Linked DNA regions of Homo sapiens: regions 1 and 3 are each linked to region 2. Evidence: fine-mapped QTL for protein levels in blood plasma. Region 2 holds a variant in brackets. A gene starts in each other region. All regions are shown on their reverse strands. Region 1 holds the start of WFDC12 (WAP four-disulfide core domain 12). Region 2 overlaps KAT8 (lysine acetyltransferase 8). Region 3 holds the start of ENDOU (endonuclease, poly(U) specific).

Evidence for each region. PIP is the posterior inclusion probability: the model's chance that the variant is causal. The UK Biobank Pharma Proteomics Project read protein levels with antibody pairs (Olink). The fine-mapping took linkage between variants from a reference panel, not from the people measured, so its PIPs are less certain.
Region 1: WFDC12 starts here. The variant in region 2 is fine-mapped to the plasma level of the WFDC12 protein (UK Biobank, PIP above 0.99).
Region 3: ENDOU starts here. The variant in region 2 is fine-mapped to the plasma level of the ENDOU protein (UK Biobank, PIP above 0.99).

What each region holds. Positions count from the first base shown.
Region 1 is chr20:45,120,360-45,128,537 of GRCh38, reverse strand. It overlaps WFDC12 (WAP four-disulfide core domain 12), which reads left to right and starts at 4,073. Exons shown (of 3, transcript NM_080869.2): 1 at 4,073-4,169; 2 at 4,273-4,431; 3 at 4,595-5,113. The coding sequence starts at 4,091. The coding sequence ends at 4,692.
Region 2 is chr16:31,127,291-31,135,460 of GRCh38, reverse strand. It overlaps KAT8 (lysine acetyltransferase 8), which reads right to left. Exons shown (of 11, transcript NM_032188.3): 5 at 8,108-8,170; 6 at 7,322-7,411; 7 at 5,304-5,444; 8 at 5,101-5,194; 9 at 4,855-5,005; 10 at 4,561-4,715; 11 at 4,102-4,266. The coding sequence ends at 4,202. It overlaps PRSS8 (serine protease 8), which reads left to right. Exons shown (of 6, transcript NM_002773.5): 1 at 1-47; 2 at 290-307; 3 at 2,073-2,235; 4 at 2,508-2,779; 5 at 2,866-3,032; 6 at 3,126-4,028. The coding sequence ends at 3,452. Among named protein-coding and RNA genes, the nearest start is that of PRSS8, 4.4 kb to the left of the region's middle. RefSeq lists enhancers at 673-1,619, 2,568-3,513, 4,462-5,409, 5,410-6,357. The variant G/A (reference allele first, on the strand shown) is at 3,948.
Region 3 is chr12:47,720,942-47,729,119 of GRCh38, reverse strand. ENDOU (endonuclease, poly(U) specific) reads left to right here and starts at 3,630. Exons shown (of 10, transcript NM_001172439.2): 1 at 3,630-3,761. The coding sequence starts at 3,707. It overlaps RPAP3-DT (RPAP3 divergent transcript), which reads right to left. Exons shown (of 4, transcript NR_183480.1): 4 at 1-233. RefSeq lists silencers at 1,971-2,030, 2,996-3,115.

The DNA.
Region 1 (8,178 bases), not on the chromosome of region 2:
ATGTGAAATCTGGTTAATGTAATTCACAAAATAACAGATTGAAGAGACAATCCATATATTTATTTCAATTGATGAAGAAAAGGCATTTGATAAAAATTCAACATCCTTTCATGAGAAAAACTCTTAGCTAACTAGAATTAAAAGGGAACTTTATTAACCTGATTCAGCAGAACATGGGATGAATTCCACAAGGTCACATGGCATGGGCTAAGGAATGCCTTTACTGGGTGAAACCAGTGAGCCAAGGATCAGCACTCCTAAGCATGGGATACTCCCAGCAGACACTCCCATCATTACTCGCTTCAGCCTACATTGAGGTGTTCTGAGGCCATGCACAGCTATTAGTCAGTGAGGCAGGACAGCAGCGTTTCTCAACATCAATACTATTGGCACTTGGAGACAGATCATTGTTTGTTGTGAAAAGCTGTCTTGTGCATTGTTAGATATTTAGCAGCAACCTCAGCCTCTAGACACTGGATGTGAGAAGCACATCTGTCCCAGTTGTGACAATCAAATATGTCTCCAGACATTGCCAAAGTCCCCTGGGGACAAAATAACCACCTTTTGAGAAGGTAGTTTACTACTACAAAACAGGAACATTGTCCCCTGCAATTTTACCTTCTTATAATATGAATATGAGAAGTTCCTTATGGGGCTTGCTTCCTAGACAGTCTAGGTTTCTAGGAAACCTAAATGTAAGCCTAAATGTATTTATATATATACATATATAAACATATTTTTGCTATGTATATATGTATATATATATGTAAACATATTTTTGCTATTGAGTTGCAGTTCTTTATATATTTTGAAAATTAACCCCTTATCTGGTAGGTAGTTTGCAAATATTTTTCCCATCTCACAGGTTGCCTTTATTACTAAATATTTTACATGTTATTGCTTTTAACGTATTACATTTTTCTAACCAATATTTCTAGTGTATAGAAAGCAGCTGACTTTTATATATTGATTTTTGTGTCAGCTAATCTTGAAAAATTGTCTAACTCATGATGTATCTGTAGTTTCTTTTGTGTTTTTATTATTGCATCATTTGCAAACAATGGCTTTTCTCGTCTCCCATTCTAATACTTATTTCTTTTCTTTTTCATTATATATATGTGTGTGTACATATGCATATATATATATATATACACACACATATAAATATAAAGACCCAATTAAAAGTGAATAAGACTTAAACAGACATTTCTCCAAAGAAGATATACAAATGGCCAACAGGTATGTGAAAAGATACTCAACATGTCTAATCATCAGGAAAATGAAAATCAAACCATAAGATCACCTCATACCTGTTAGGATGGCTTTTATTTTAAAAAGAAAAGAAAAAGAAAACAAGTACCGGTGAGAATGTGGAGAATTTGGAACCCTTGTGCACTGTCAGTGAGAATTTAAAGGAGTATAGCCACTACGGAAAACAGTATGGAAGTTCTTCAAAAAATTAAAAATAGAGCTATCACATGATCCAGCAATCCCCCTTCTGGGTATTTATCCAAAAGAATTTAAATCAGGATCCCAAAGAGATATTTGCACCTGCAAGTTCATTGCTGCAATATTCACAATAGCCAAGAAATGGAAACCTAAATGTGCATTGACCCATTGACAGATAAATGAGGGAAGGAAAAAGATTATATACATGTACATATATATGCATACCATGGAATATTATTCAGCCATAAAAAAGAAGAAAAGTCTATCTCATGCTACAACATGGGTGAACCTCAAGGACATTATGCTAAGCAAAATAAGCCAGTCACAAAAGGACAAATATGGCATAATTCCACTTTTATGAAGTGTCTAAAGTAGTCACTTATAGAAGCAGAAAACAGAATGGTGGTTCCAAGGGTCTGGGGGTGGGGGGAATAGGGAGTTGCTATTCAGTGGGTTTCAGTCATGCAAGATGAAAAAGTTCTAGAGACCTACTGTATGACACTGTGCCCACAATTAACAATACTGTTAGTATGCACTTAAAAATATGTTAAGAGGTCATGTCTTATAGTATATATTTCTTACCACAATTTTTTAAAAAAACACGGTGTTGAGCAAAGCATGCAAAATACAAAAGAATACTTAGGCCATAATTACGCTTACACGAAATTAAACAACACGTATCACTAAGCAAGCCATAGCAAGAGAGCAAAACTTTAAAGGAAAACATGAGGATGATTAACAGAAAGTTCAAGATAGTGGTTACCTCTGAAGTAGGGATGGTAATGTCCTATTCTAAATTGATAGGTTCATAGGTGTTTATTATTCTTTTTCAAAAGGTATAGAATGTTGATTACATTCTTTCATATGTAGGATTTATTTTACAATACTTTTTTTAAAGAAGTATCATCAACAGTCAATTACAAATGACATTTTGGGGAGAACCGGAGAAACAAATATGAACTGGCTATGAGATGACATGCAGAAACTATTAATTATCTTAGATATGATAATGGCTTTGTGATTATATTGAAGAATATCCTTATTCTTAGAATTTGCATGCTGATGTATTTAGGAAATAGGAACATAATGTATTCAATTTCATTTCAAATATTTCAACAAATGTAGCTATAGGTATTCTAAAATATCCCAAACTATTAATAATTGTTAAATCCAGTTGTAGGTATACAAGTATCATTGTTCTGTTATTTCAATTTTTCTGTATGTTTAAAAAGTTCATAATAAAAAGGTGGAGGAGGAAATAGCCAATACATTCCAACATTCTAGTATTTGTTTATGAACTTCCCAGATTCCATCCCTGGTATCCAAATGATCTGAGTCCAGTGATATGACTGGTGAGATTGTAACCAAAGATTCACCACCTAATAAGGAGTAGGCTCACTTCCAGGAATGGAGGTATCCTCCCTGCCTCCACTTAACCCCAACTCAGTCCCTTCCACACTTCAGGATGTGGAACACCCCAAACCCAAATCTTTGCATTACTCAGGGGTCCTGTTAGTAAATGACAGAAATCCAATTCAGACCAGCTTAGGCAGAAAGGTGAATGTATTGGGTGGTAACATAACCCTGGGTATGAGTGGGGCTGATCTCAGGAAAAAGTTTAGTGAAGGACTAGATATCCTCTAAATTACTCCCTGTCCATCTCTCATCTCTTTTTATCAGCATCTTAGATTTATCTTCTCAGAATTTCTCTCTCACCAGGGCCAGGACCAAATTTCTGGAGTTTCTGGGCTTATATCTGCAACTTTTCCAACAGGAAGGATTTTCCTCCCTTTAGTACTCATTCAAAGAAAGGACCCCAAAAGCCTGGTCACACACACACACACACACACACACACACACACACGCACACACGTCCATGTCTTCTTCCAAATCCAGGAATTTGGGGGATGCAGGGGCAGAGGAGGGAAAACAAATCCTATGAAGATGATACAGTATAATTATTATGCTCATTGTATGAATGAGGAAACGGAGGCTTAGAAAGGTGAAGCTGCTTTCAAAGTCACACAGCTGGTGACAGGTCCAAAATCTGCTTTCCTCCAGGCCACATGAGATTGGCGGGGGGCAGGAGCACACGGTGCTGGAGCGCAAGGCTGAGAGTGAATGTTCAGGACAGACATTTTAAGCACTGCCATTCAGATTCTTCCTTGGGGTGAGGTGAGAACTGAGAACAAGTCCGGGGCAGCACAGGAAGGAGGGAAGATTTTGGTCCCAGGTGAATCAGGCATGAAGAGGGACTGATAGAGAACACGGTGGAGTTGAGGAAGTCTGGCCCTGCCACTGCCTCGTGTGTGAACTTGAGTAATTTCATGCCCTTTCTGTGCTTCTTTTCCTCCTTCCATAAGATAGTTTGGCCCTGGTGGCGCCTAATGGTCAATCACGTGTCCATTTCTTCTCCTCGTGTGAAGAACGAGGGTCGCTCTTGGATTTCTTCATCTATTCCAGTGCAGAGCCTTAGGGAAAGCCCCAAGTCCCTCCTCAGAAGGGGCCATTTCCAAATAGAGCTGGGAAGTGCAGCCTCCCTTGCCATTTTGAGCCTTCAGCTCCACCCACTGGCATGCCCAGCAGGAACACTATAAAGCCAGGCTCAGCCCAGCTCCCAGCCAAGCACCTGCCTGGCAACATGGGGTCCAGCAGCTTCTTGGTCCTCATGGTGTCTCTCGTTCTTGTGACCCTGGTGGCTGTGGAAGGAGTTAAAGAGGGTGAGCAGACATGGTGGAGCTGGGTGGGGCTGGGCTGGGGAGAGGTCCTGAGGGGCCCTCTGGGGCTGGAGTTCTCATATCACCTTGTGGCTTCCTCCACTAGGTATAGAGAAAGCAGGGGTTTGCCCAGCTGACAACGTACGCTGCTTCAAGTCCGATCCTCCCCAGTGTCACACAGACCAGGACTGTCTGGGGGAAAGGAAGTGTTGTTACCTGCACTGTGGCTTCAAGTGTGTGATTCCTGTGAAGGAACTGGAAGAAGGTAAGGAGACCTGCCTCCCAGGGCTGGGGCTGTCCCTTCCCTGCCTCTATCTGACCCATGAAAGTTCGGAGGAATTAGTCCCTTTAGCTGGTGTGGGGAGGGATGGCTAAAGCTGGCAGGGCCCTCAGAGACCACCTAGTCTGAACATCTCCATTGTCCAAAGGAGGAAACAAGGATGAAGATGTGTCAAGGCCATACCCTGAGCCAGGATGGGAGGCCAAGTGTCCAGGCTCCTCCTCTACCAGGTGTCCTCAGAAATGATGCTGGGTCCTTTCTACCTCTGGGGGTCACTCTCACTTGGCACCTGCCCCTGAGGGTCCTGAGACTTGGAATATGGAAGAAGCAATACCCAACCCCACCAAAGAAAACCTGAGCTTGAAGTCCTTTTCCCCAAAAAGAGGGAAGAGTCACAAAAAGTCCAGACCCCAGGGACGGTACTTTCCCTCTCTACCTGGTGCTCCTCCCTAATGCTCATGAATGGACCCCTCATGAATGAAACCAGTGCCCTTATAAGAGACCCCAAAGAGCTGCCTTGCCCTTCTGCAATGTGTGATCACAGCTAGAAGGCACTGTCAGAGAAGAGAAACTGGTCCTCACCAGATGCTGAATCTGCTGGTGCCTTGATCTTGGACTTCCCAGCCTCTAGAACTGTAAGAAATAAATATTTGCTGTTTATAATCCACCCAGTCTATGGTAATTTGTTATAGCAGCCCAAACCTGCTAAGACAACCTAATAGTAAAAAAAAAAAATCCTATTCAACATTATCAAAGTGAATAAAATATAAAATACCTACAAATAAATCTAGAGATGTACAGAAATTTTCTGAAAGGAAACCCTAAAACTTTATTAAATGACATTTTAAAAGATCTGGATAAATAGACTAAACTTTTCTACAGAATAAATAAATAAATGTTTTTTAAAAGATATGCTCTTCCCCAAGCAGGAAGCCTCCTCAAAGTGTTCACCTTGGTCAGCATAATTTATACCTGAAATATAATTAAAATTAAAACCCACTGGGTTTTGCAAACCCTAATGAAATAATTGATTCTGGCAATGATTATCCATGGCTTCTGAATATTTACAGGGTGCCATTTCATCACCCTGTGGTATATTTACAGTTTGTAAGAGGGAAAACACAAGTTTACAACTTGAGGATTCAGGTACACACCGAAAACACATTAATCTGTCTCCACAATGCTAAAAATGGGTAAAGCGGACCTCCGTTCCTCCTGAGGTGATGCAACACAAAACACACAGCATCATTCAAGAAGGGCTCCTGCCAAGACAGTTGAGCATGAACCTCACCAAGCCTCTACAGCTAGCATTCATCTATGGGAAATGTGAAGGACAAAGAAGATGAAAGACATCACAGGGAAGCAACATGGGACATTCTAAAGAACAATTTGTCTGTTTTGTTCAACAAGTCAATAGCATGAAGAAGAAGAAGGAGGGAGGAAAGGAGAATAAAAAAGAGTTGGAGAGATTGTTCTAGATTAAAAGAAACTTCAGATACATTACAGCCAATGCAATATGTGCACCAACAACCATAGAGTCACTTTTGAGACAATAAGAAAAACAAGATGCAAATAGAATATTAGATGATGTTAAGAAACTGCAGTTAATTTTCTTAGGTGTAACAGTAGGATTGTCATTATGTGAGAAAGTGTCCTTAGTTTTTAGAGATGCACACTGAAGTATTTAAAGGTAAAGTATAAGATCGGTTGGATTTACTTTAAAATACTTCAGCCAAAAAAGGGGTGGGGATATGCATGAAGGAATTCTTGTAAAATGGTTCATTGTTGAATCTGGATGATGGGTATGTAGGCTCCATAAAAGTATTTGCTGTTCTTTTGTGCATTTTTGAAAACATTTTATGATAAAAACAAGGGTTTGTTTTTGCAACTTAACAAAATGATCATTAGGTTCACATGGAACAATAAAATACTTGTAACCTGGAAAATTGAAAATGTAGACTAATGAAGGGTAATGGATACCACCAGTCACTAAAACATATTATGGAGCTACAACAATTACAGCCACAATACAAGCATACCTTGTTTTATTGTGCTTTGCAGTCATTGCATTTTTTACAAATTGAAGGTTTGTGGCAACCCTGCACCAAGCAAGTACATTGGCTGCATGTTTCCTATAGCATGTGCTCACTATGTGTCTTTGTGTCACATTTTGGTAATATTCACAATATTTCAATTTTTTTCATTATCATTACATCTGTTATGTTGGTCTGTGATCAGTGATCTTTGATGATACTTTCCTAATTGTCTCAGGGTGCCATAAACTGTGCCCACATAAGACAGTGAATTTGATCGATAAATGTCACATATGTTCTGATTTCTCCCCCAACCGGCCATTCTCTGTTTCTCTCCCTTGGAACACAACAATGCTGAAATGAGGCCAATTAATCATCTTACAGTGGCCTTTAAGTGTTTAAGTGAAAAGAAGAGTCATGTCTCTCACTTTAAATCAAAAAAAGCTAGAAATGATTAACCTTAGTGAGGAAGGCATGTTTGAAAACCAAGAAAGGTCCAAAGCTAGGCCTCTTTTACCAGTTAGCCAAGTTATGAATGCAAAGGAAAAGTTATTGAAGGCAATTAAAACAGCTACTCCAGCAAACACACAAATGGTAAGTGAAACAGACTTATTGTTAATATGGAGAAAATGTTAGTGGTTTGGATAAAAAAATCAAAACAGCCACAGCATCCCCTTAGCCAAAGCCTAATCCAGAGCAAGGCCCTAACTTTTTTCAATTCTATGAAAGCTGAGAGGTGAGGAAGCTGCGTAAGAAAAGTTTGAAGATAGCAGAGGTCGGTTCACAAGATTTAAGGAAAGAAGCCATCTCCATAACATAAAAGTGTAAAGTAAAGCAGCAAGTGCTGATGGAGAAGCTGCAGCAAGTTCTCCAGAAGATCTACACAAGATAATTGAGGAAGGTGGCTACGCTACACAACAGATTTTCAATGTAGATGAAACAGTCTTTTATCGAAAGAAGAGGCCATTTAGGAATTTCATAGCTAGAGAGAAGTCAATGCTTGGCTTCAAAGCTTCAAAGGACAGGCTGACTCTCTTATTAGGGACTAGTGTATTTGGTGACTTTAAGTTAAAGCCAATGCTCATTTACTATTCCAAAAATCCTAGAGCCTTTAGGAATTATGCTAAATCTATTCTGCCTGTGCTCTATAAGTGGAACAACACAGCCTGGATGACAGCACATCCATTTACGGCATAGTTTACTGAATATTTTAAGCCCACCGTTAAGACCTACTGCTCACAAAAAAAAACAATTTCTACTTTCCTTTTGTAATATTTCTACTTATTGACAATGCATTTGATAGCCCAAGAGCTCTGACAGAGATGTACAAGACAATTAATATTTTCATGCCTGCTAACACAACATCTATTCTGCAAATCAAGGAGTAGTTTTAACTTTCAAGTTTTATTATTTAAGAAATACATCTCATAAGGCTATACATTATTTAAGAAATACATCTCATAGCTGCCACAGATGGTGATTCTTCTGATGGATCTGGGCAAAGTAAACTGAAAACCTTCTGGAAAGGGCTCACAGTCTAACTGCTATTAAGAACATTCATGATTCATGGGAGTAGGTCAAAATATCAACATGAATAGGAGTATGGAAGAAGTTGATTTCAACCCTCATGAATGACTTTGAGGGGTTCAAGACTTCAGTTGAGGAAGTCGTCACTGCAGATGTGGTGGAAATAGCAAAA
Region 2 (8,170 bases):
GGCTGTGGCCATTCTGCTCTATCTTGGATTACTCCGGTCGGGGACAGGTAAGTGAGGACGTGGGGGCAGGGTGGGGACAATGCACTGGAGGGAGCCGGCGTGATCATTTTCTGGGGTGTGCCCTTGTCTGGGGCCCAAGAAAACCCCCGGCCTCCCTAGCTCTTGGCCTCTCTTTCCCACCTTGGCTCTGTCAGGGAAGGGGCCAGCCCTCTGGAGCAGTGGTGGGTACTAAGGGGTCAGGGAACCCGAGTCTTCCCTACTCACCCCTCCTCTTTCTCTTTCTTTCTAGGAGCGGAAGGGGCAGAAGGTGAGACTTTCCTCGGAGAGGGAGGAGGGGAGGGGGAGGTGACTTGGATCGGATTCCCCTGGGGTTTAACCAGTGCCTGGCCTTCAGCTGGGCTGCCTTCCAACTAGATTCTCTTAGGGCTCCCAGAGTGGGGGGTTTTAGCCCTCACCTTATGGGCAGAGAAGCAGGGACTTGCCCAGGGCACACTGCCAGTGAAGGTGCAGCTGGGATTCAGATCCACGTCTGACTCCCAAAGTGGGGCAATCGAGGTGGTTTTTTTGGTTTGGTTTTTGTCTTTTGAAACAGGGTCTGGGTCTGTCGTCACCCAGGCTGGAGTGCAGTGGCCCGATCGCAGCTCACTGCAGTCTCAGTGATCCAGCCTCCCGGGCTCACGTGATCCTCCCACCTCCCCACCTCAGCCTCCCTAGTGGCTGGGACTACAGGTGCATGCCATCACACCCAGCTAGTTGTGTTTTGTTTTTGTTTTTGTTTTTGTTTGGTAGAGATGTGGGTCTCACTATGTTGGCCGGGCAGGTCTTGAACTCCTGGGCTCAAGCGATCCTCCTGCCTTGGCCTCTCAAAGTGCTGGGATTACAGGTGTGAGCCACCGTTCCCATCCTGGAGGTGGTTTTGAGGGAACCAAACCAAGGGTCTCCTTTCTTGGAAGGCACCCAACCCAGCTCTGAGTCAGACCGGCTTTCAATCCTGGCTTCCCCATGCACTGGCTGTGTGTCATTGGCCAAGTCCCCCCACTTCTCTAAGCCTTAGACTCCTCACCTCTAAAATGAAGCTGGTCATGTCCGTCTCCTGGGGCTGTGGAGAGGATGCAGGGAGATGAGGAAGCGAAAGCCCCTCCAGGGCCTGGCACAGCCGCTAGGCTCTCTAAATAGTGGCTATTGTCATGATGATAAGGGAGAGAAAGATCTGGTCTGCAATTTTCTCTGCTCCTAGATGACTTTGTGAAGAGCAGTTGGGCTCCACTCCAAAGTGGCCTCAATGGGGGTGGGGCTGGGGCTGTCCTGGAAACTAGACATTCACATCACAGGAGCCCAGTTCTGCTGTTGGTTTGTTGAATATATGTCCACGACGCCACAGGCACTGCAGACATGAGAATCTGCCCCTAGGGAATGCCCAGATTGGTGTGGTGGAAACAGACACAGTTGTGGACTCCGGAACAATTGTGAGACTGGGCAGCATCGGGGAGCATGGTGGAGGTTGGGGGGTGCTGGGCTCGGAGGCAATGCCCAACTCAGCCAGCAGAAGCCCGCCTGTCTACGGAGGGGCTGCTGTTCCAATCAAGCATCCACAGGCAAAGGGAAGTTTGCCAGACAGTAAGGATGGGGAAGGGCATACCAGGTAGAGTGACCTGGATCAGCCAAGGTCCCGGGTAAACAAGTGTGTGGCCTGATGTACACAACTGAAGGGTCCAGAGGGGACGGCTGGGTCCGATGGCGGTGCCATGGTCTGTCTGGAATGTATCTTAAGGACCGCGTGGAGCCAAGAAGGGTTTAAGCAGGGCTGTGGCCTGGTCAGATTGGGGGTTTATGAAAATCTTCAGACTTGTAAGGGGCGGGATGGATGGAAGGCTTGCAAGGAGAGAAGCTGCCATGAGACCTGAATTAGGTAATGGGTAGTGGACAGAAGGGGCACAACTGCCCATGCCTGGGAGGGGACAAAGGGGTGTTGACTCCTGTGAACCCACTTCCCAAGCTCTATATCAGAGCTCCTGGGCTGCATAGGAGTGGCCAGGCTAACAACCTGACCCCTTCCCTTCCTCCCTGGGCAGCTCCCTGCGGTGTGGCCCCCCAAGCACGCATCACAGGTGGCAGCAGTGCAGTCGCCGGTCAGTGGCCCTGGCAGGTCAGCATCACCTATGAAGGCGTCCATGTGTGTGGTGGCTCTCTCGTGTCTGAGCAGTGGGTGCTGTCAGCTGCTCACTGCTTCCCCAGGTACCAAATGGTGAAAGTCAAAAGTGGGCTGGAGGTCAAAGTTAATGGGTCAATCCAGGTCAGAGGTTGGGGTTCTTGGGTTGGGTCTGAGAGTGTCAGTTCTAAGTCTGGAAGGACCAGTTAGGAGTGAAGGTGAGGGGTCAGAGGTTACATGATAAAACTAAGGTGCAATTTGAGACCTAAAAGGGGCTGATCGGAATCAGGGGTTGGCAGTGGGGGTTGGGGAACAAGGAGAGGTCTCCTGGGTCTCAGCCTTTGCCCCCTGCCTGCAGCGAGCACCACAAGGAAGCCTATGAGGTCAAGCTGGGGGCCCACCAGCTAGACTCCTACTCCGAGGACGCCAAGGTCAGCACCCTGAAGGACATCATCCCCCACCCCAGCTACCTCCAGGAGGGCTCCCAGGGCGACATTGCACTCCTCCAACTCAGCAGACCCATCACCTTCTCCCGCTACATCCGGCCCATCTGCCTCCCTGCAGCCAACGCCTCCTTCCCCAACGGCCTCCACTGCACTGTCACTGGCTGGGGTCATGTGGCCCCCTCAGGTGAGGTGGGACGCTGGGTGCCTAGAGGTGTGGAGGGGCACCTGACTTGGGGAGGGGCCCAGGGTAAGCCTCTTTTACCCCCACAGTGAGCCTCCTGACGCCCAAGCCACTGCAGCAACTCGAGGTGCCTCTGATCAGTCGTGAGACGTGTAACTGCCTGTACAACATCGACGCCAAGCCTGAGGAGCCGCACTTTGTCCAAGAGGACATGGTGTGTGCTGGCTATGTGGAGGGGGGCAAGGACGCCTGCCAGGTAAGCACAGGCCCGGGGGGCAGATGACCAGTGCAACTTCGGAAAGGAGGCCTGGCCCGGTCCTGATGGCTGCTGTGTGGCTTCTCTCCTCAGGGTGACTCTGGGGGCCCACTCTCCTGCCCTGTGGAGGGTCTCTGGTACCTGACGGGCATTGTGAGCTGGGGAGATGCCTGTGGGGCCCGCAACAGGCCTGGTGTGTACACTCTGGCCTCCAGCTATGCCTCCTGGATCCAAAGCAAGGTGACAGAACTCCAGCCTCGTGTGGTGCCCCAAACCCAGGAGTCCCAGCCCGACAGCAACCTCTGTGGCAGCCACCTGGCCTTCAGCTCTGCCCCAGCCCAGGGCTTGCTGAGGCCCATCCTTTTCCTGCCTCTGGGCCTGGCTCTGGGCCTCCTCTCCCCATGGCTCAGCGAGCACTGAGCTGGCCCTACTTCCAGGATGGATGCATCACACTCAAGGACAGGAGCCTGGTCCTTCCCTGATGGCCTTTGGACCCAGGGCCTGACTTGAGCCACTCCTTCCTTCAGGACTCTGCGGGAGGCTGGGGCCCCATCTTGATCTTTGAGCCCATTCTTCTGGGTGTGCTTTTTGGGACCATCACTGAGAGTCAGGAGTTTTACTGCCTGTAGCAATGGCCAGAGCCTCTGGCCCCTCACCCACCATGGACCAGCCCATTGGCCGAGCTCCTGGGGAGCTCCTGGGACCCTTGGCTATGAAAATGAGCCCTGGCTCCCACCTGTTTCTGGAAGACTGCTCCCGGCCCGCCTGCCCAGACTGATGAGCACATCTCTCTGCCCTCTCCCTGTGTTCTGGGCTGGGGCCACCTTTGTGCAGCTTCGAGGACAGGAAAGGCCCCAATCTTGCCCACTGGCCGCTGAGCGCCCCCGAGCCCTGACTCCTGGACTCCGGAGGACT[G/A]AGCCCCCACCGGAACTGGGCTGGCGCTTGGATCTGGGGTGGGAGTAACAGGGCAGAAATGATTAAAATGTTTGAGCACAACTTGCCGTGCATGTGTGAAGTGAAATGAAGAACATCCGCTCTTGGCCTCCCCTTCCCCTCCAAAGTCCAGGGCCACCAGAACTGACTTTATTAAAAAAATGACAAAACAGGTCTATACATATTTACAGGCTGGGAGCCAGGAGGCTCAGGTCCGACAGCAGGGGCCAGGCTGCTCACTTCTTGGAGAGCTTGACTTGCTTGTGCTTGGGGGGTGCCCACTTGAGGCAGACGGAGTCCACTGTGGGGAGAAGGGGCGGGAGGCAGGGCTGGGCCTGGGCCAGGCCAGCTCACACCTGGCTGCCCTCCTCTGGGCTCAGGCCAGTTTCACCTCCTCCAGGTGAGAACAAAAGGGCAGGCTGTGCTGGGGAGGGGTAGGGAAGCCCAGGAATGAGAGGCCTGCCCCGGGCTCCATCCTGGGAGCTGGTCTGACTGGTTTGGGATCATGTGACAGCAATAAGGAGGCCTTGACTCCTACCAGTCCATATACTGACACTCCCCCACCGCCCCCGACACACAGCAGCCCCCCACCCACCTGTGATGGGTGGTTTCTTATACTGGGCACTTTTGAGGTGCTCCTCCACCAGCTTGGGTGTGACACAGATCACGTGCTGGCCCTTCCAGTACTTGACCATATTGAGGGATTGCAGGGTACTGATGATGTCATTTTGGGTGATACTGGTCATCTGGCTGCAAAAAGGGATGAGAGCAAATGCCAGACCTGGTGCCCTTGTGGGATCTGGCCAGGATGGTGACAGGGTATGAGGAAGCAGGATCGTGGCCCATCTCAGGGCAAGTCCTGCCCCCAGGGCCCGGGAGGCCCCCTCACCTGAGGTCCTTGATGGACAGTGTGCCCCGGAAGTCCCGCAGGATCTCTAGCAGCACCCAGGACCAGTAGCTGCGGTAGCTGAGCTTGCCCAGGTCAGACAGTGGCTTCTCCGGGGAGCCGACTGTGCTCTCCAGCTTGGAGAGCTCATAACCTGGCAGCAGTAGAAAGAGGAACTTAGGATCCAGCCTGCCCTGGCACCCCTGCCCCACAGGTCTCCCCCTCCCAGACAGGCCAGGAACCACTCACTGAAAGCGATGAGGAACTTCCCGTAGCCGCGGCGTTGGTAGGGGGGCAAGGTCAGGATGCAGGCCACATTGTTTCCATCCGGGGACTCCTTCTCCTGCAGGAGGCAGGTGCTCAGGGCCGCTGGGGAGGCTCTGCCCCACTCTCTGTTCATGCCCACCTTCGCCCTCCCCACCCTCCCCACCCCGAGTTTCCAGACCCAGCACCTTGGAGAAGTAGCCAACAATGTGGGCCCCCTGCCGGTCCACCTCAGTCAGGATGTAAAAGACGAACGGCTCCACGTCAAAGTACAGTGTCTTATGGTCCAGGAAAAGCTTGGCCAGCAGACACAGGTTCTGACAGTAAATCTAGGGTTGAGGAGGGGGGAGACAGGCTCAGGGGGCAGGCACAGGCCCCACCCAGCTGGTTCCAGCGGCCGGCACCAGCCCACGCGAAGTGGGCGCCTCGCCAGGCCAGAAGGATTTCACACTGGAAGGAGTCTTCGGTCAGCCTCTGACGAACAGGGAACTGGAAATGAGAGAGCAACAGCACTTCGGAGGTGCCAGTGGAGCTGGATGAAGCCCGGCCACCCCTTCTGAGTGCCAAATACGAGCTGGGTGCCTTCCATGCAGGATCTGCTTCAGTCTTCACAGACATTAACTCTGTTTCAGCTCGTGAAACTGAGGCTCCGAGGCAGGAATTTAGACCGTCCTGTTCATGGCTGTGTCCCCAGCGCCTAGCACGAGTCTAAGTATGAAGCTGGGTGCCTGGTAAACGTCTGCTGAATGGAGGAACCTCGAGCCCTGTCTGTCCACTTGGCTGCACTCCAGGAGGGGGACAATGGGACCGAGTTTGGCTTCACGGCACACACTAAGGGGCTCCCTGGTTTATGACACCACAGCCACTCTCTCATCCAACCCGGCAGCTGTGCGAGCCCAGCACTGCCAGGCCCATCTTACTCAGGAGGAAGCTGAAGCTCCCAGAGTGGAAGTGCTTGCCCAGAGCCTCAAAGCTGGCAGAGCGCAGTTGGAAAGCACCCCCACATCTCCAGCGGGGGCCCTTCTGCTATTCCACACAGCCATGCTCAGGAAGGCAGAGCAGGGGCAAGGGCTGGGCTCAGCCTGCGTATTCTCCGAGTCCAAGGCTAATCAAGCCCCAAGAGGTCACCGATAATAACAAGGCCCGTGTTTATTAAGCACATACTAGTGCTAAGCACTGCACTAAACACTTGACATTTGCTGTCTCATTTATTCCACTAACAACACAACTAGGTAAATATTAAATATTATGACTCCCGTCTTATGGACAAGGAAACAGGAACAAACCATGTTAAGTAACTTGTCTGTGGTCAGTGAGGAAGTGACAAGGCAACATGAGCCACCCTGAAGCCTGCCCTCTCTGTCCTGTGCTGTATGGCCCATCTGCGGGAAACCAGTACACTTGGCCAGACCCTCCCAGACTGATAAGGCAAAGGCCAAGTTCTCTACAACAGCTAGGCAGGTCCCAAAGGCCCCAACCTGCCCTGCTGAAGTCATTCGGGGCCAGGAACAAGGAACTCAAACCTTGAAAGCCACAGAGCTCTCTCAGGAGGAAATTTCACACAAAGCAGTCCCCTCCCAGGCAAAAACAAACACCTTTCTTTCCAACGGAAGGAGAGAGCACTTCTAAAAGCAGCCTCAGGCAAGAAAATCTCCTCTGGGTTCCAGAACAACCCAAGTTTGAACCTAACCCCACCAGCAGAAGAGTCTTGGGGCCACCACAAGGCCCTGTGTTTCCTATGCACCAACTACAGGCCTAGTGCCAGGCTAGGAGGCCCTCAGAGGCCTTCTTTTTTTTTTTTGAGACAGATTCTCAATCTGACGACCAGGCTGGAGTACAGTGGCACAATCTCAGCTCACTGCAACCTCTGCCTCCCAGGTTCAAGCAATTCTTGTGCCTCAGCCTCCCGAGTAGCTGGGATTACAGGTGCGCACCACCACGCCAGCTAATTTTTTGTATTTTTAGTCGAGGAGTTTCGTCATGTTACCCAGGCTGCTCTCAAACTCCTGAGCTCAGGCAATCTGCCCACCTCAGCCTCCAAAAGTGCTAGGATTACAGGTGTGAGCTGCAGTGCCCGGCCCCTCAGAGGCATTCTGCCCATAGAGGCTCAGCTAAGGCTGCCCCCTCCCCTTTGGTGGTGATGAGGATCATCTGGGAGGTGCCCAGGGCCTCCCCGGCCTCTCCCAACCCCTGGCCACCCACTCACCTTATGGTCTTTGCCATCAACTTCGTACACGGAGATGTTGCTCTTGCGGTAGATCTCTTTCCCGGGGGGCTGCCGCCACTGGCACTGACCCTGGTCGGGGACAAGAGAACAGGTTCGCTGCCCATATGTTCTCTGCTAGGAGGCACCCAACCCACCACTGCATGCTTTGGAGCAAGTCTCTGCCTCTCTGTTTCCCCCCTCAACACTTCACCTACATCGAGTAATCCTCCCAGCAGCCTTAGGAAAGTGATCCTGCTTTTACAGACCAAGGCCCAGGCACAGAGATCCAAACATCACACAGCACGGTGGGGTTTTGAGTCTCTGTGGGCCTGGCTCTGGAGGGACCCGTCCATGACAATGGCTTCCCTAAACCACACCTATTCGCTTCAGATTCCACACTTCGGGAAGCAGCCCACTGTGTCAGTGATGAGAGCGCCCCTTCCTGACAGCCCCCAATTTCATCCACACTTAAGGTCCCACTGCCAGGGGCTATGTGTGCTTCCTGGGATGGAGCTGGCCTTGGCAAAAGACCTGAAGGGGGTGAGTTACTGTCCCCATTCCAGAGAAGAGGAGCTGAGGTCTGAAGTTGGCAAGGTCACCCTGCCAGCAACAGCAAAGCCAGGCCTGGAATCCAGGCCTCCTGACCCCCAGCAGCTCTTCCCTGTACTCGCTCCTTTGGGCCTGTCTCCTCCCTGGAGCTGCCGGCGCAGCCGCCCTCAGTCTCCATGCCTGCCTCTGCCTCTCACCGGGCCCCTGCCCAGCTCGGCCCGGCCGGCCCAGCCTCACCAAGTGGAAGCGGTAGCTCTTCTCATATTTCATGTACTTGAGGCAGTACTCGCAGAGCCAGAG
Region 3 (8,178 bases), not on the chromosome of region 2:
AGAACCAGCATCTTCATGTGCCAGGGTCCCCTTGGGAGGTGAGTCTGGGCCTCTCCTGTGATGGGCCAGCTGCAGGGTCCTTCCACACGCAGGTCCTCTGCTGAAATGACGTGGCCTTGGTTTTGCAGGAGAACGAGGATGGTAGAATAGGCTGGCCTGGGCAGGTGTCCCTTTTAGTAGTCCTCTGGGTCAGTCTCTCTCAAGGCCTGTTGATCCTGACAGACCCCAGACACCTGTGGTAGCCCAGAGATGAATGAGGCCTACTTCAAACAATGCCCTAATGCTGAGGCTTATCTGGCTTCTGTCCCACCAGAAACCAATCAGTTCCAGGAAGAGTTTTCCAGCCTAGCCTGAACCCTGCCAGTCCAATAACAGCATAGCCCCTGATGTGTAGTGAGCACTCGATAAATATTTGGCTGATGGAATTCCCACCCTCTATGTCTCTCACAGCTGAGTGCCTCCCAAATCCTTGCCCAAGCAGCCTCACCCTCTTCCCCACTCTCCAGACCTCCACAGAGGACACAACTGCACCATCTCTGTCGCTATTCTCATCATTGAGACACCATCCACCATGCATCTCCCTCCACTCTCTCCCTACCCCAGCTCTCCAGGACCCAGCCTACCACAATTCCCAACTTGCTGGCTGGTCCCACTGTGGCTTCTTGGGAAGTCTGCAAGGATGGAAAGCCCATGTGAGTACCTAATGGCGGGGGGTACTCAGAAAGAGGAGCCGCAGAGTTCTTGGTCCACAACAGGCTAGCAGGGAAGAGAAAGCTGCCTGAAATCTATCTTAATGTATCTCTCTCTCTCTCTCTCTCTCTCTCTCTCTCTTTTTGTGTGTGTGTGTGTGTGTGTGTGTGTGTGTGTATACACACATACATGGACATCTAAGTTTATGAGGCATCTTTGCATGAATATGTATTGATATATTTTCATTTATTGGCTTAATGGATTTTTTCTGCCTTTGTCAGCATGTCTTCGGTTATAAAATCTGGGGTTTGGGAATCCGATCTGCGAAGAGGGCGTATGAGCAGCCGTGGGAGGGCATATCCCAATTCCCCACCCCTCAACCCTCAGCACCAGAGGCAATGAAGGAGAGGCAGGACAAGCACTTAGGGTTGTTTAGGGAGTTGTGACATCCTATGAGAAGTGGAACTAGATGGCAGTTGAGGTCCCTTTAATTCCAGTGAATTTAAATCTAGACTGCTTTGTATAGTAACCAGACATGATTAAGTGGTCGTTCAAAGTGTGATGTTGTGGGGCAATGGAGCAACGGTGCTTATGAGAATGACCCCTGGTCAGATGGATCTGGGTTGAGGCACAGCTGCATAACTTAATGATTGTGTGCTTCTGGGCACGTCTCCTAACCTTTCTGTGCCTCAGTTTCTTCATCTGTAAAATGAGGACAGCAATAGTACCTATTAAGGTTGTAGTGAGAATCAATGAGATAACACATATGATAACACACGTGGTAAGTGCTCAGTCAATGTTGCTGGTGGTTGTTAAGGCTGTTATTCTTATTGAAGGATGCAGTTTTAAACACTTGGGTACTCAGATGAACCATCTGGCTCTATGGAGTCATCCTTAACTGTCTTCCCCAGCTCCAATCCTTGCTCCTGACCTAAAATTCCATTAATGGGGGGAGAGCTCCTGCCCTCAAAACACCATCCCATGGCCAGTTCAGCTGGACACTAGGAGAACCTAGCCAGGCTGTACTCCACTCTGACAGCTTTGGCTTCAGCTAGGGTCCACCCAGCTGGACACTTGGAAGGGACAGACCATTCATTCCCAAATTCTGAGGCATCATTGCTTCCCAGGCCAGCCAGTGACACCCTCCTTTGTCCCCTAAACAACAGGAGTCAGAGACACGTTTATGTGGTGCCAACCCAGGGAGGATGAGGATTCTGAGGGGCAGTGACTCTTCAGCCTGCTTTTGGATTGTGTAAATGAAATCTATGCAAATGAAGCAGCCATTTCTGCTCTTACTCATTCTAACCAGCTCCCTTCTGGGAGAGAAGGGCTAGGCTCACTCTTTAGTTGTGCTTCCGGGCTGGATGCAGTGGCTCACACCTGTAATCCCAGCACTTTGGGAGGCCAAGGTGGGCAGATCACCTGAGGTCAAGAGTTTGAGATCAGGTTGGCCAACATGGTCTCTACTAAAAATACAAAAATTAGCCAGGTGTGGTGGTGCATGCCTATAATCCCAGCTACTCGGGAGGCTGAGGCATGAGAATTGCTTGAGCTGGGGAGATGGAGGTTGCAGTGAGCCGAGATCACACTGCTGCACTCCAGCCTGGGCGACAGAGAGAGAGATTCCATCTCAAAATATATACATACATTGCACTTCCTGTGTGAGCCCCTTGCAAAGTTTGCTTGCCCTAGGCTTGTCCTTCTCTCTACCCCTGAGTCCCTATGTTTGGACTCCTCTCTACACAGCAACAGGCTGGGGGATTCTCTTTAACCCACCAGCAACTGTTCAACCTGGCGCATGGGCAGGAAAACTCGAGATTAAAGTCTGAGAACCTGGAAGGGATTGTCAGATCCAACCCCATCATTTCAGATGAGAAAGCTGAAGACCAGCGAGAGGAAGAAACTTCTCCTGTTAAAGCACACTGGATGAAGACGTGCTCCACTCCCAACCTCCAGAAAAAAATCACTGATAGAGTGGCCTCCACTGTTCACCAATTTTGCCTTTTTATATGATAGTTTTCTTTCCTGAGAGGGTTGAGAATCCCCATGCAGTGCTCTTTCTGGCAAGGGCATCATACTTGGCAGATTTTACCTTTATTATCGGGGAAAACTGGACAGTCACGGGGAGCTGCTCCCCTTCTTTTGGACTTGGAAACAAAAGAACCTCACTGGGGAGGAGTTCCTGAGGAGAGGAGTGTAAGTTGGGGTGAAGGGAGTGAAACCCTGGGCTCCCAGGGGAAGAAGAGTGGGCCTTCGGCTGCCTTTAAGAGGCCTCTTGCCCCTCCCCTGCCTCATAAGGAATCTGAAACGTTTAAACCCCAGAGGCTGACTCAGTAAGAGTCATTTGCATAATATTTTAGAGTGATTTAGCCATGCGCTCGACATGTGGCTGATTTAGCTATGCTGGGCTTGGTGGTCATAAGAATAGCACTGGTTCTGACCGACACATCCTCTATCTCTCTGTCCAATGACCCCAACCCTTGCTTGGGCACTTACTGTTTGTCAAATTTGGACCAATCACCTTACTGTGTGCCAGTGTCATGCTAAGCTCCAGGAATTTGAAGATGAATCCAACCTGTGGCCCCTTGGAAAGTCAGGTCTGAGACTTGGAAGTAGGTGTCTGTTTGGTGGGGATCACCCAAAGATCAGCCCATGGGTGTCCCTAATTTGGACAAAGAACCCTCCAAACTGGACCCATCTTGGTGTGCCTGCCTGCATGACCTATTTTTTAAGCTGCAAACAGCTAGCATTACCTGTTCTCAACATCTGGCATTACCTACCTTCTTAGTCACCTTCCCTCAGGCTTCAAACAGCTGTAGGGCCCCACCTCCTATCCATCTAGGGTCCCTCCCTCCCCTTTTTCTTCCTGAAAGGATCTGGAGACACCAGCTCCACAAGTCCTGGTGTCTTTAAAAGGATCAGCTTGAGGAATAAGGCTCGTCTGAGAGCTGTGACATTCATCTGACTCTAGTGAAAGTCCAACAGCCACTCCCTTTTTGGCCTCCAACTGGGCACCATGAGGGCCTGCATCTCCCTGGTATTGGCCGTGCTGTGTGGCCTGGCCTGGGCTGGTAAGTCACTATCTGGCGGGCATGGGATTGCTGGTGGGGCGGGATCTTGCCTAAAGAAGCAGAGAGTTGGAGAACTTGGTAGAGGGCAGGGCCGTGGGACAAGGGAGGGTGAGCTCTGTCCTAAAGCCGCAGAGCACTTTTGGGTTGTCCTTGTCTGAGGGTGCAGGCGTTGGTCCCGGAATGGACTGGACTATGTGGAGAGAGTTGCAGGGCTGATGGTCTGATTTCATGGAATTCCCTTCTTGACACCTTGGAGGATCAGCCCCAAATATCCCTTAGTCCAGCCTGACTTTTGATCTCCCCAAGATTTTGTTGTCTGGGGCCACTGTAAGGAATAAAGCTAGGGCTGGTGTCCATGGGGTCTGAGTGGCCTGGCTGCCCTTGGTCACTCCTTCCACTGCCTGGTGACAGGTGAGGTTGTTTAGGGTGTGATGTTACTTTGGGTAGAGCCTTAGGAGGTGGGCAGGCTTAGGAGGAAACTGAAAGGACCTTTGACCAGGAGGTGGGCCTCGTCCTATCTGGGGCTGTACAGGGGTCAGAGGAATGGATCTCTGTTGCAGTGTTAGGAGAATTGAAGAATACAGAAGGGACCTGGCCCACAGTTATGAGAGGTCCAGGGGATGGGACTGGCAGAGGAACAGGACCATGTTCCTGTTTAGTAACTGTGCAAAATGCTGGTGCTGATGGGTTAATTGGTAGCTAGTGGGTGGGTGGGAAGGAGTGCCAAGGGAGGGGCTGAGCTGAGGAGTGTGGGGAGAATCCTCCTCTGCCCACAGGAGAAAGAATCCTTCCACTGGGTTGCTCCTGTGTAGGACTGTGGAAAGGATTAAATGAAATAATGTATGAGAAGCACCTGGTGCAAAGTGAGATCTCAGTGAACTGGAAATTCGCTATGATTATGACTATAAATTTTCTTGGGAGAAACTTCCGCTTGGGGTCATTTCCAACTGGGTTGTGGAAAGGAGACCCTTATGGGATTTCTAAGTGGAAAACCCCTGGAAGAGGAAGTTGTGCCTCCCAACCATGGATGAGATAGTGCATCTTACCAGAAACCAGCTCTGCCTGGGCCCTAGTGGGTGGAGAGGCAGTGGGAGAGCATGAGGGTGGGCCTGGGAGCCACCAGCCTCAGCCCTGTTGGTTGGGAGGAAGGTGGAACTTGGGGGCTTAATGTGTAGGGGTGGCCAGCGGGCTTGGCATATTCCAGCCTTAGGGAAGGAGAGCAACTCTGGATATTTGGTCCCTGGGGGGCAGAGGTAGCAGTGGCTTTAGAAGTGCAGGTGGAGCTCTTGCTGCTAGGTCGGAGGGCAGTATCTGCTTTGGCTGTGGGATCGATGGGGAAGTGAGGTCAAGTGTATGAGGCTTCCTAAGGTGGCAGGGAAGAGGCTCTGCACTTGTTGATACTATCCCAACATCTCAGAACTGAGAGGCAAGAATATGAATCACATGGGGAATCACTGACAGCCTCAGGTCCTCCTTTATGAGCTGGATGTCTGTGGAGAACCTTGGTTGATTTTTTTGGTTGTGAATGGAGGCAGGAAGCTAGTCCAAGGGGTGAGGCTTCTTGGTTGACTAGGTCTCCATGGAAACAGCATCTGGGGCCTTCTAACGGTACAGATGTGTAGGATGTCCCAGTCATCAGAGGGGCTGAGCACCAGTGTACAGGGACACTGTGTCCACCCAGGCTTGGGACCAAGCTTCCTTGATGGCCAGTATGGATAGGGAGTGGCTGTTCTGGCATATTGAAGTCTTAGAAAGTGCAGAGAAATTGAGCATTTCTTGGGGGAATGGAGGGAGAATCTGAACCCGAGAGAGGAAAGGCTCAGATGAAGAAAGGCAGAGAGTCAGAGAGGTGAGGCAGAGGAACAAGAGGCACAGGTTACTACAGCAGTGATTCAGGCACCTGGCTTGGGGAGCAAGGCTTACTCAGAGTGTTGGTGTTAATGGTGCAGTGTGGGGATGCTGGAGTGAGTTGTTAGGGTGACTAGTTACTCATCAGAGTGTCCCCAGAATGTCACAGCAAAGTGCCTATGAGGAAAAGTTCCTCCCACCCCTGCACTCCACTGTCAAATCCCAAGGTCACCTTGAAGCAGACTAAGTGCACAGAGAAATGTGAGAAAGTGCTGGCATGGGGCTCTTGCTGGAGACAAAGTTCTTGAGCAGAGATGAAAAAGCCCACTCAGCTTGGGCCGGCGGGGGTGCTCTCCTGCACGTCCAGCTGACTGCTCGCTTGCAACCCTTCTCAACTGGTGCCAGCTGCTGGAATGAAGTGAATTCTTTCCCTGGACTCTGCTGATTTGGCCCATTAAAAACATTGCCCTGATTTGCCTGAATTCTCTCCCTTTGGATTCTGGGTGTACTGCCAGGCTGACTGAGCAGGGAGCTGATGGGCTGAAAATTTCTCCTTAAGGTCTTTGCATTCAGGCTCCAAGGGAGCATCATTTAACATTCAAGAGGAGTTCCTGCCGGCTTGAAGGAACAAGTGGCCTTGGGCCTGGTCTCTTTTAGGGACTGGAAACCTGCCTTCCTGCCCACCTTGGAGGCCTGACAATGTGAAGTTGTCTGAGGACCCGGGTTAACCTTGACCCAATGCCTCTCTGATGTAAAGAATACAGACCTGTAGTGATGAAGTCAGCCAGGAAACCAGCAACACAGATGTGCTGACAACCCAGCCCAAGGGATGGCCCTGTTGAAACCCTGGGAGAGTGTCAGCTAGATTAAGTGTGTCGACGGGGCCACAACACAGGGAAGACTGCTCCAGCCAGTCTGAACACTTGTCACTTGGAAGATGGGCATGAAATATTGCCACCGTTTATTCACCTAACAAATACTTCTATGGTACTACTATGTGTCACTTGCTGTCCTAAGTGCTTTACATATATTAACTCATTTAATTCTTACAAATATTCTATGAGATAGGCTCCATTATCATCCCACTTTTACAGATACGAAAACCAACGCACAGAAGTTCAAATAACTTGCCCAAGATCACATAGCTAGAAAGCAGTAGAACCAGAATTCCAGCCTCAAGCAGTTTGGCGCCAGAGTCTAGGTTCTTGACCTCTCTGCTATGCTGTCCCTCATTAGACAAAGTATCAACCTTAATCCCAGAATCCAATACTAGGGACTGGTAACCAAACCCAACCTCTAATATTTAAGCTCTAACCCACTCCAGGCTTAAATTAAGATACTACACCTGTATTGAATCATAACCAGAACCAAGCCCCCAAACAAAACAGGGATTATTCATCTTTTTCTCATCCTGACACATTCCTCAACCCCGAATGTCATCTTAAGTCTATTCCTATTCCTTACCCAAATATCAATACAAAATTGTTAATTTATCAACTAATTTAACTCAAGCCCAAATCCTAACTGTAGTTCTTAACCTAACTAACCCCAACCCTGGTCCAAATTAGGTTTCAGTTTCCTCACTGATACAAATTCTGATGCTGATGGTAACTCTGACTCTGATCTTGACATTCTCTGTAACCCACAGTATGACCTCTGAACCCAGCGTTCGTGAAATCCAAACCTCAGGAACCTCAAATCGAACAAAGACTCTGTTATCACCCTTAAAGCCCAGAGTGGATAGTGGGTTTCCACTGTTCCTTCAAAATGTCTTGTCTTATGTCCCTTGCGACCAAAAGCTTGCTTCTGCAAACCATTTGGCTGCAGTGGGGGATGTGGTCTGTGGTTACATAATAGAATGCTATGCCAGAGCCCAATTCTCACCCGCACCCGCCTCATTCCCCACCCTGAGCATAAATTCATCTGAATGTACTCCAAAGACGGGAAAGAACAGAAAGATGTGACACAGGGGGAAAGAGCGTGCAGAGAAGACCAGAAGGGGAGACAAGAGCAAAGAAGCAAATAACATAACAGGGATGGAATAAGAGCCAGCGGAGGGTCAGGGGCAGGGGACATCCCTGGGGCAGCATGACATGACAGGTGAAGGGGGCCTGTGGGCTACACCCAGTTCACAGACCTCTTTCTTTGGTGTGCTTAAAGTGTTACAAGGTTGGAAAATTTCACATAAAAATGAAGATTTATCTTGAAAAAAAAAGGGAAGGCTCTGGCAACACTGAGCACACATCCCAACATGGCCACAATCGGCTAGAGCTGAGCATCAGCTGCAAATTTCAGATGGAGCATTGCTCTCAAGTTTGTCACGGTCTCCATTTCTTCCTACTGCCTCATACCCTGCTTCTTTACTTGCTTATGTTATGGGCCTAACCCAAATAGGGATTTGGGTTTGTGATCCTGGTCTCTTTGATGAGCCTTGAAATATTTGGTGGGTGTTGGGTGGTGGGGAGGAGGCTTATGTTGTGCATGGGAGGCTGTGGATGTACTTCTCCTTTGCAGAGAGTAATGCCCTTCCCTGCCAGGTACACTCCTGCCCTGGTCTGTGAACCCTCCT